Homo sapiens: one gene and its partners. The protein of the gene in region 1 interacts with the protein of each later gene in a pairwise test. Each region holds a gene or a part of one and is shown in the gene's direction. Other genes may lie near its edges.

Region 1 (3,650 bases):
AGGGAGACATATTTGGGACCAAGGCTCATTAGTAGGTTAGGGTCTGCTGTACCTACCCGTCTGCCAACATCTATCTGCCAATATTCCCAGACTTTCCTGTTTCTAAATGCTGATTTAGATAAATGCTTTTCTAACCAAAATGAAGCAGTATGGTATTTAAGTCAACCATGGAAATAAGCATTAACATATGTGCCCCCACCTGAAAGACATCAGGTTAGGTTCGATTTGAATCAGGCAGGAGGCCAGATGCAATCAAGTCCCTGAAGTCTGGAACTCCACCAGAAGAAGAGATCAGGCTCCCCTGCCCCAGGATCCTCCAGACTGCAGAAGATCTAGGGAGGTCAGAATAGAGCAGGGCTCCCACATCTTTGATAAAATGTGATTTTGTAAACTAGAAGAAAGGGGGAAATGGCAAAAGCAGGCCTTTCTCTAAAAGGTCTAATAAACGGGATGATGCCGGGGTACTTTCCAGGCCTCCCTCATGCCATCTCTATCTCTACGATTACATCACAAGCCCCAGAACACCCTGGCTCTACACGCAAGGCAGGCCACACACTGGACTGCTTGCATAGACCTAGAGCAGTTCAGTGGCTCAGTGAGGACTTGCTATCCCAACTGGACCAAGTTGGAAGCCCTACATGGTATGTGAGATCACAGAATTGGTATTTGATACCCCTGGAAATGGTTGCATCGTCATTTCACCAATACAGCTACACTTTCCTCTAAGGCCTGTGGGTTTGACATTGATCCTTATATGTTTATTTGTTCATGGGCTTGTTAGAAAGCTTTTAGATTGAGATTTAGGCAAAAAAGAAAGTGAACTTGGTTTTTAGCCGTAAATTTCTCTAGACCATTCTTAGGTCAAACTAACCAGCTTCCTTCTGCAGAAATTGTTCAGTGCTACATGGGCATGTGAGAACAAATTTTGCGTGCTCAGTGCTAAGACACTTTCTCCCACCAACTCTACCTTTCTCATAACAAGATCTTAAAAGATGATTTCATTCCCTCAGTCCTTAGGTGCTGTCCTGTCCTCAGGTGCTGATGTCTAATCACCACACTGTTTGGTTCAGTCACCTGCTATCATCCCTCCAGTTTAGGGGTTCTGTCTCTTTAATCAGCAGGCAAAAAATTCAGACTCAGGCTTTTGACCCTGCAAAATGGAGAAGCATGTACTGCTTTTGAATTTTTAAAAAAAAAAAAAAACAGTTAGAAATTTGACACTAAGACATCTAAGCAACTGGGTGGAGATCTGAAGTAGCAAGTGAAAATGATACCATTAATGATATTGATGATGGATGTAAAGGCAATTGCAAACAATTGGTTTTTTGTTCTTAACTCCAGTCAAACACTTACCAAAACAACTAAACTGGTTGGACTTCAACAATCTAAATGAAATCTTGAAGCATGAATGTATTTCCCATGCAGTATGGAAAGGAAGAGAGAGAGAAAGTAGTTAAAAAACAATCTCCATTCCTACCACACACCTTTGGCTTGCATTGTTCACCACCTTTTAAAGTAATGCCTGATGTGTTATATGCTGGTCCTCCAGAAATTCTAAACTTTCCCCAGAAGTGACCTTTGTTCTCCCAGTGCCTCACAACACTCTTAAATACCAAAGAGCTTCAGGGGGCAAGGACAAGAATTTTCTAAAGGAAACCCTTCTCCACTTGCACTGGACAGGCTGTCAAGACCCAGCAAGACACTTTGTCATGTTATCTCACTCCACATTCGCTTTCTCTCCTTGTAGCTACCTCATCCCTGAACTCCCAGCTCCAGCAGCTCCAGCTCCAGCTCCAGCAGCAGCAGCAGCAGCAGCAGCAGCAGCCTCCCCCGTCAACCAACCAGCACCCGCAACCAGCCCCACAGGCGCCCTCGCAGTCCCAGCAGCAGCCGCTGCAGCCCACCCCACCCCAGCAGCCACCACCCGCCTCTCAGCAGCCGCCAGCTCCTACATCTCAGCTGCAACAGGCGCCTCAGCCCCAGCAGCACCAACCCCACTCCCACTCCCAGAACCAGAACCAACCATCTCCAACCCAGCAGAGCTCCAGCCCCCCGCAGAAACCTAGTCAGTCTCCAGGACATGGCCTGCCTTCACCGCTCACGCCACCCAATCCTCTACAGGTATGCTCCCCGTGCTTCCCGTCTGCCCCTAGGAGCACCAAGGACCTTTCCATGGGGTGGTGCCATCCCCAAAGGCAGAGGGACCACACAAAACTTAGCATCCAGTTCTGCAGCATCTAATTCAAATTGATCTCTTAGACATAGGGAAGAAGAAGCAACTAGAAGGCAACTGGGGATGCATGTAAACGAAACAAATAGAAGCCCATTTCTGTTGCCCTCCAAAGGATAAATGTTATCTGTTTCCTTCTGTGAGAGGCCAGCACTATAAGTGCATTTGGAGCCTGTAATAATTCCATTTTATGATACTTTTTGAAGGCAGCAAAGATAGCATCCAATTAAAATTATTACTAGCACAGTTTTGTAGCCCCATGGAGAACTGCATCTACTGTCCATGAGGCATGGTGGTTATTTCTCTATATTATGAATACAACAGTGTCTCACCTTAAGTACTTTGTGCTCTTTTGTTTCTATTTTTCTAAAGACTCTCTGGGGTTAGGAGGGCAAAGAAATTTAGCCCCAGTCTTATGTCCCAGATTCCAACCATTACTCCACAGACTAACAAGTACTCTAAATTCATGCCAAGAGCCTCAACCAATATGCATCTTTATAAAGGAATAAAACTTCTATAGGTTTACTTTATTACTGTGAGGCTGAGAGCTTCATAAATAGATATTTCAGGCTAACCATGAGAGCTCATCTATAACCTACCTATTGAGAAGGAATGGATAGGTGCATTCATATATATATATATATATATATGACTTTAAACTTCAGAAAACCATTTTTAACTTAGGTGTCTTTAAAATAAATTAGCTTCAAAACATAATGACTGTGATGTCATCATATCAGATCCAGAAATTAATAACTCAGCCAAGCCATCCATTCTTTGACTTGCACAATGACATTTTTCCCTGTGAGATTTCAGACAATCTCGTGTATTTGTAGTACTGTGACAAAGTTAAACAGAGTGAGCAGCCTGTGGACCTGTTTCAAGTGCCATCTCATCCCCTTGCCATAGTGGTGGGTATAAACCTCAGTCAGTCCGGCTCTCCCCAGCCTGAGAATGACAGTAGCGATGGTATCCTTGGCTCCTAAATAGAAAAGTATACAAAATAAAGACAGGTTGGTACACGGACAGAAAGGCAGGTGGATTAGAGACTTGGTATTTTAGAACTTAGTTTGTTGTCCCATAGCTTTGTCTCTTCCAATTTGGATTCTCAGTGGTGTGGCCCAAAGCATTCCTAGAAATGAACACATTTGGGAGAGATGAGTCATTGTGTTTTTCTGGGCTCTTGGGCCAGGGCTACTTTCAATTTGAACATTTTCATGAGTGGAGTTTCAAGATGTATTTATACAATTCTTACGATGGTGAGACAACGTAACACCTTTGACCTAGGACTAAAATGAACATGGTCCAAAAACGTCTTCATTGTCCACTTGACACCTACTGAAAGAGCAGGTGTCATCAAATTTACAGAAGGCATGATTACAGCAACCTTAATGTTGGCAGCATTTGGGATTCAACTTTA
Region 2 (3,650 bases), on another chromosome or scaffold:
CTGGATGGATACCTGATGATCTGTGTGGACGGGGGGCCCTCCACAGATGGCTTGGACTGGTTCTGCTACCATGCCTCTTCCCACGCCATCTTCCCGGCCACCTTCTGTCAGAAGAATGACATTGAGCTCACACCGCCAAAAGGTAAGACTAGAGAGGCCACCACCTGCTGTCCTTGCCATCAGAAGGGGCAGGGTGTCCAGGCGCGGTGGCTCCCGCCTGTAATCCTAGCACTTTGGGAGGCCGAGGCAGGTGGATGACCTGAGGTCAGGAGTTTGAGACCAGCCTGGCCAACATGACAAAACCTCGTCTCTACTAAAAATACAAAAATTAGCCAGGCATGGTGACAGGTGCCTATAATCCCAGCCACTCGGGAGTCTGAGGCAGGAGAATTGCTTGAACCCAGGAGGTGGAGGTTACAGTGAGCCGAGATCATGCCATTGCACTCCAGCCTGGGCGACAGAGCAAGACTCTGTCTTCAAAACAAAACAGAAGGGGCAGGGTGTGGCCACAAGCCCAGATTCCTGGTCAAGTCAGGCCCCAGAAGTGTAGCATTTCAGGGTGTATGGGAAAGGTGACAGAGCCCACCACCAGCCCTTAACTGCTGGGCTGACCCTACCCCATGGCCAGTGTATGGTTGATGAACAGAGCTCCCACTTATCCCATTGGTCAGTGAACAACCTATACAACAGGACTGTGGTGCTAGAGCAGGTACTACCCTGAGGGGATGAGAAGAAGGCTGCTGGGGAGACTCCATGCTGGGTCCTGACCAAGCTGCAGAGCTTCTTCAGCCATGTGTCCTTTCCTCCTGCCCACTTCCTGCTTCCCCCTCTCCCTCTGCATCTGAGCTTTCTGCTCCTCCAGGTTATGAGGCACAGACTTTCAACTGGGAGAACTACTTGGAGAAGACCAAGTCGAAAGCCGCTCCATCGAGACTCTTTAACATGGTGAGGAGACTGAAGTGGAGCAAGGGGCCTGCGGTGGCCTCAGGACAGGCCCTGCCTGCTGCTGTCAGTGGTGGCAGTTCCTACTCTTTCTCTCGAATCTCTACTGCTGACATCAGCCACTTTCAGGGGGAAGTCCCCAGCTATGGCCTGGGCACTCCAGTCCCTCTTCCATGGAGGGCGGTACTGGGAGAGGTGCAGTGGGTTATTGTCTAGAGGAAGCTGCCCCAGCAGCCATTCCAGTCCCCGCCCCTCCCTGCCAGTTCTTCAAGTGCCTCCGGGCCGGGGCAAGCCTGCTGGGGTAGGGAGCTGACTGGCTTGGCCACTGCCTCCTTTTTCTGCCCCAGGATTGCCCAAACCATGGCTTCAAGGTGGGCATGAAGCTGGAGGCCGTGGACCTGATGGAGCCCCGGCTCATCTGTGTGGCCACGGTGAAACGAGTGGTGCATCGGCTCCTCAGCATCCACTTTGACGGCTGGGACAGCGAGTACGACCAGTGGGTGGACTGCGAGTCCCCAGACATCTACCCCGTCGGCTGGTGTGAGCTCACCGGCTACCAGCTCCAGCCTCCTGTGGCCGCAGGTGTGGGCTCTCGTGGCCCTAAGAGGCTCTGACTTTCTTTCCTCTTCTTTTTTCCTTCTTCCCCCGCCCCTGTGCCCATCTCCGTTCTTTGGCATGAGGTGGAGATGTCTCATGGACCACTTTAAGTAGAGAGTGAGCCCCGTCACCCAGCCCCTGCTCCTGACTTCTCTGTCTCCCTTTCCCTCTGGCCTGCAGAGCTCCTTCCTTCATCTTGCCCACTCTGTCATATGTTCGTGCCCTTGTGCACCCAGGTAAACTACCCAGGTCCCTCTGAGCAGCCCTGGTAACAAGGGTGGGAAGAAGGGACAGCTGTTCTCCGGCCCCTCCTCCAGCCCCGCCCTCTCCTCATTGCCCAGGTTTGGCTTCCTGTCTTGGGGTGTCTCGTGTGGGAGGGTGGATGGGGTCTCGGGATGCGCCTGTGCCCTGTGTCCTCCCAGGGACCCTCTTCTCATCTCTTTCACCCTTGTCTTTCAACAACAGAACCGGCCACACCGCTGAAGGCCAAAGAGGCCACAAAGAAGAAAAAGAAACAGTTTGGGAAGAAAAGTAAGTGCTGCACCGGTGCAGCCAGGCTGGTGTGGGCCTGGGAGCAGTGGGCCTGCGTCCCTGGGAGCAGGCGGGGGTCAGCCCCCAGGCACTGGTTCCCAGGTGCTGTCCTACTGACGTAGCTCTCTTCGTGTTCCTGTCCTGTCTCTTTCCCCTTGCCCTTTGGCCTACGGGCCTTTCACCCTGTCTCTGGGGACCCAGACCATAAATAGGGAGTGTTCAGTCTCTGGCCATGGTCAGGGTGCTGAGGAAAAGAGGTAAGAGATTGAGGTTGGGGGATCCCATCCCTGATGCCCCATGTTCAGAAAAAAACAGCCTGGCCTGGGCAAGCCGCAGCTGCTAGGTTCTAAAGGAAAAGCCACAGGAAGAAATAGAAGCTGTCTCTCCAAGGCTGTCATTCTTACCTCGAGACCTCTTTGAGGGTGGGAGAGGGTGGGAGCAAAGGCAGGCAGCTGAGTGGCAGGACTCCACCTGGCTCTCAGGCCGTGGGTGTCGTTTCCCTTGGTGGGGCCTCACTCTACAGATTCTGAGCCCAGCTTGGGTTCCACTTGAGGGGCAGAGCGGGAGCGGGCAAAGCCATCCTTCAGAGCCGCAGGCCTATGACAGCGAGGTGGGCTCCACAGTGTGGTACCATGTGGGGAAGAGGATGTTCTGAAACAGAAACAAGGTCCCTTGGGCAGGGTTAAGATTGAGTGAGGCGGCCAGGCGCGGTGGCTCACACCTGTAATCCCATCACTTTGGGAGGCCGAGGTGGGCGGATCATGAGGTCAGAAGTTCCAAGACCAGCCTGACCAACATGGCGAAACCCCGTCTCTACTAAAAATACAAAAATTAGCCAGGTGTGGTGGCAGGCGCCTGTAATCCCAGCTACTTGGGAGGCTGAGGCAGGAGAATCACTTGAACCTGGGGGCCGGAGGTGGCAGTGAGCCCAGATCGCTCCACTTCACTCCAGCCTGGGCGGAAGAGGGAAACTCCATCGCACAAAAAAAAAAAAAAAATTGAGTGAGGGTGTGGCATTTATCCAGCAGGCAGAGGCTCTGTACCATTCAAACGGTAGGACCGGGAATGGTGCATGTTGTGGGAAGAAATCAACAATCAAAAACGGGGGCTGAGTGTGATGGTTCACACCTGTGATCCCAGCACTTTGAGAGGCTGAGGTGGGAGGATCTCTTGAGCCCAAGAGTTTGAGACCAGCCTGGGCAACATAGCGAGACCCCTAATTTAAAAAAAATTTTTAATTAGCTGGGTATGGTGGCACAGGCCTGTAGTCCCAGCTACTCAGGAGGCTAAGGTAGGAGGATCACCTGAGCCTGGGAGGTCAAGGCTGCAGTGAACTGTGATCACCCCACTGTACTCAAACCTGGGTGACAGAGTGAGACCCTCTTCAAAAAATCTTTTTATTTAAAAAAAGATTTTAAAAAGCAGTTACAACCACGACTGCCTGGGGCTTGGTTTGAGGGAGGTGGTGGTATTACTTCCCATTGGAGAGAATCTGAGCTCAGGGCACATAGCCAATAAGATGTGTTGTCAGAGTTGGAGTCCAGGCTTTCTGTCCCCAAACTGGCACTTTTCCCTCTGCC
Region 3 (3,650 bases), on another chromosome or scaffold:
TTTCATTTGAAGAAACAGTTGAGTGGCTAGGATTTCAACAGTTTAAATAACATAAGTCATTTTCATTGGTGTAGCAATTTTTGGATGTGCTAGAATTCTTCTGATTCTTTAAGGAATAGAGAAATTACTAACTATGGTTAAAGTAACTTAGTCGGGTACCTTTAGAAGAGTAAAGACTTGAGTTTATTTATTTATAGTACTTTAATTAAATTTAGGGGAGAATAAGCAAATTAATGGTTAGTTATGGCATCTCCATGCACTGGTTTAATCATAAATATTAGATCATATTATCTAACCTTTTTTTTTCTTGTTGAACTAGTCTCTGCACCACCTTGTCACTGCAGTGGGAACCAGAGATCATAGCAGTAGCAGTGATGTATCTCGCAGGACGTTTGTGCAAATTTGAAATACAAGAATGGACCTCCAAACCCATGTATAGGAGATGGTGGGAGCAGTTTGTTCAAGATGTCCCGGTCGACGTTTTGGAAGGTACCAGGCATGCTAAGCGTTCTCGTGAGGGTGTTCCATGTTGAGATGATTCTTCCATGTGTACCCTGAGTCCCAAGAATGGATTTTCCCAGATAGACATATGTGAGCAATATTTCAGAAGCATCATTAATTAAATTATCTAATAGTTTCCACTTTGTCCAAACACATACTTTTGGTAAACTAAAAATACACACCAGTGTTGCACACAACGAAGATGGGGTGAGTTGTAAATGTGATTCATGCTTAGGTCCTCGTAGGGGTATCATAACTGATTCTTTATCCAGGTAAAATTTTATTTAAAATACCAATTTGTGTAAAATGTAATTGTTGGCTATCATTTAGACATCTGCCACCAAATCCTGGATCTTTACTCACAAGGAAAACAACAGATGCCTCATCACACCCCCCATCAGCTGCAACAGCCCCCATCTCTTCAGCCTACACCACAAGTGCCGCAAGTACAGCAGTCACAGCCGTCTCAAAGCTCCGAACCATCCCAGCCCCAGCAGAAGGACCCCCAGCAACCAGCCCAGCAGCAGCAGCCAGCCCAACAGCCCAAGAAACCCTCTCCGCAGCCCAGTTCTCCCCGACAGGTTAAGCGAGCCGTGGTGAGTGGGCTAAAGCAGGCCCTGGGTAGAGCAGGCTTTCCAGGTGGCGGCAACACCTGAGCACTGTTCCCATTTCTAAGCGAGCACAGGGAACACCGGAAGCAGGGGGTGTTCGCCGAAACTCGCAGTCCGACTGCTTGTCGGTGGGGAGCCTGAAAACAAAGGTGCTCCAAGGACAGGCTGCCTCTGAGAACCAGGAGGGGGCTCTCTGCCCGGCTCCAGCCCTGCTGCCTGTTTCATCCCTGCCAGGGTTCTGAAGCCTGTCGGTGTCGTTGCCGTGTCCTAGCAGTGTCGTTGTGCATGCTGCTTCTGTGCAGCTGCCTGACCCCAAACAGTGGACCGTTTCCTGCACCCAAGTGGTCCTGAAACTTAGTGTTTACTCAGAACTCACCATTCAGGAAAGCTAGTCATTCTGTCTTATTTGGTAAATGGAAAGAGGAAGGGAGCAGAAATGATGATCTGGTAGGTGCCGTGGTTTGCCCTGAAAGTTCAGGCTAGAAATAATTTTTGTCCGAGGCTGTTCACAGTGACTGCCGTCGCTGATTCTGGTGGTACCTGGATAATCCATTTTTTTCTCATCATACTCAGGATCCCAGTTAACAATTGTGTATTTTCTTTTGTAACAGGTTGTTTCTCCCAAAGAAGAGAACAAAGCAGCAGGTAATTTCCTGTTCTGATGTTTTTTTAGTTTTATGTGTTTATATGCAAAACTTTAAATTCTTAGCCAACATTGTTTCTTTTCAGATCTAAATTGGCCTTAAATCTTAACTTTAGAGCTCATACAAAACTTTTCCATCAGCATTGTCTTTCTGTTCATCACCTGATCATAGATTCTAAAATTGTGCTCTTACGAAGCTATCAGTACAGAAAACATTACTGGCAATAAAAATGTACTCAGTAACATATATAAAAGTATAATTATGGCTGTAGGAGAACTGTTGCTGCAATTTTATTTTTAGAGACTATTTACCCCCATCACAGCAGCAGGAGTCCTCTCCCAAGCACCAAGCCACAGCAGATGCGGGGGGGCAGTAGGGGGTGGTGTGCTGCCCGGACAGCACCAGCCCGGCCCAGCCCAGCTGCCCTTGCAGGCAAGGCCTCTTTGAAACACACTTGGGTTGAGGTGCTGTCACATGTCTAGAACCCAAAGTTAGTTCATGTCAATATTGGAAATAAACAGAAGGAGTGAGCAAAATTGGAACAATTACAAAACAGAAAGTTAGAAATGTTTTGTCACAGGGTCAGTCCACCTATCATACTGAACTCTTTGAAGGCACAGACCCTATTGACTCATTTGTCTTTCTTTGTTACTTGGTTCTTAGTTCCAGTAGTTCCTGGTTCTTAGAACCATGTTCTCGGTTCTTAGTTCCATTCATTAAACTGCTGTGAAATCTTCCAGTTATGATAGAGCTACTTTTTTTTTTTTTCCAGTATATTTGAGGGAATGATGAGTTCAGTACAGGTGAATTTTTTTTTTTTTTTTGAGACAGAGTTTCACTCTTGTTGCCCAGGCTGGAGTGCAGCGGTGCAATCTTAACTCACCACAACCTCCGCCTCCTGGGTTCAAGCAATTCTCCTGCCTCAGCCTCCCGAGTAGCTGGGATTACAGGCATGCACCACCAGGCCTGGCTAATTTTGTATTTTTAGTAGAGACAGGGTTTCTCCATGTTGGTCAGGCAGGTGTCAAACTCCCGACCTCAGGTGATCTGCTCGCCCCAGCCTCCCAAAGTGCTGCGATTACAGGCATGAGCCACCGTGCCCAGCCTACAGGTGAATTTTTTAATTAGCTTCAAATTGACCGACATTAAATGTTAGACACAAGAACGGGCTACACTCCATGCCACATGAAATGCAATTGAGTTGACGTGCAGGTCTGTCAGAGGCAGGAAACAAACTATATATGACCTTGAAGGAAGAGTTGCATTTGAGCAGCGAGAGCAGAGGGGGAGGATGGAGCAATAAGTTGGAAGTACGCAAGTGAGCAAAGGAATTGAGAATCAGGGGAAATGGAGAGGAGTCTTTCTGGAATGTGATGAATTGAAAGGCAATAGCTTCTGATAGGATCTAAAATGTGGGTTAGGACCAGATCACAGAGTTTACCTGGAGGACTGTGAGTTTGGCAGAGGCAAGGGAAGCCATTGGAGATTTAGCAGGGGAATGGCAGAGTCTAAATTCATTTGAGAAGGAGTCCCCTGGCAGCAGTAAATAGGGCAAGTGGTTAGGAATGGGGAGAATCTTGCTGGCACTCATGGGAAACATGGTGGCCTCAGCATGCTGGCTGCGGGGCAGGAAGGGCAGATCCGGAGGAAGCTTTATAGAGGAACTCAGCTGCACTGTGCCATGCCGAAGGCTACTGGCTGCAGAGGGCTGCAAGCACTCGAAATGTGACTGGGTCAAATTCTGAAGCACTGACAATGCAAAATACACAGAGATTTCCAAGAAAGGAGAACGTAAGACATCTCATTAGTAAAGCTTTATATTGGTTACATGTTGAAATAAAATTTTCGATCTATCGGGTTAAATAAATTTTATCCTTTTTCCTTTTATTTCCAG

Evidence for each region.
Region 2: the proteins of POU6F2 (region 1) and L3MBTL2 interact in binary tests that used the Homo sapiens proteins (3 or more experiments, as listed by UniProt).
Region 3: the proteins of POU6F2 (region 1) and CCNK interact in binary tests that used the Homo sapiens proteins (3 or more experiments, as listed by UniProt).

What each region holds. Positions count from the first base shown.
Region 1 is NC_000007.14:39,337,895-39,341,544, forward strand, and holds part of POU6F2 (POU domain, class 6, transcription factor 2), read left to right. Parts: exon of another isoform or gene 1-1,226; intron 1,227-1,747; coding exon 1,748-2,121; intron 2,122-3,650. UniProt on the Homo sapiens protein: Probable transcription factor likely to be involved in early steps in the differentiation of amacrine and ganglion cells. Recognizes and binds to the DNA sequence 5'-ATGCAAAT-3'. Isoform 1 does not bind DNA.
Region 2 is NC_000022.11:41,225,800-41,229,449, forward strand, and holds part of L3MBTL2 (lethal(3)malignant brain tumor-like protein 2), read left to right. Parts: coding exon 1-142; intron 143-862; coding exon 863-945; intron 946-1,289; coding exon 1,290-1,524; intron 1,525-1,719; coding exon of another isoform or gene 1,720-1,775; intron 1,776-2,004; coding exon 2,005-2,070; intron 2,071-3,650. UniProt on the Homo sapiens protein: Putative Polycomb group (PcG) protein. PcG proteins maintain the transcriptionally repressive state of genes, probably via a modification of chromatin, rendering it heritably changed in its expressibility.
Region 3 is NC_000014.9:99,501,888-99,505,537, forward strand, and holds part of CCNK (cyclin-K), read left to right. Parts: exon of another isoform or gene 1-319; coding exon 320-489; exon of another isoform or gene 490-831; coding exon 832-1,097; exon of another isoform or gene 1,098-1,723; coding exon 1,724-1,757; exon of another isoform or gene 1,758-3,650. UniProt on the Homo sapiens protein: Regulatory subunit of cyclin-dependent kinases that mediates activation of target kinases.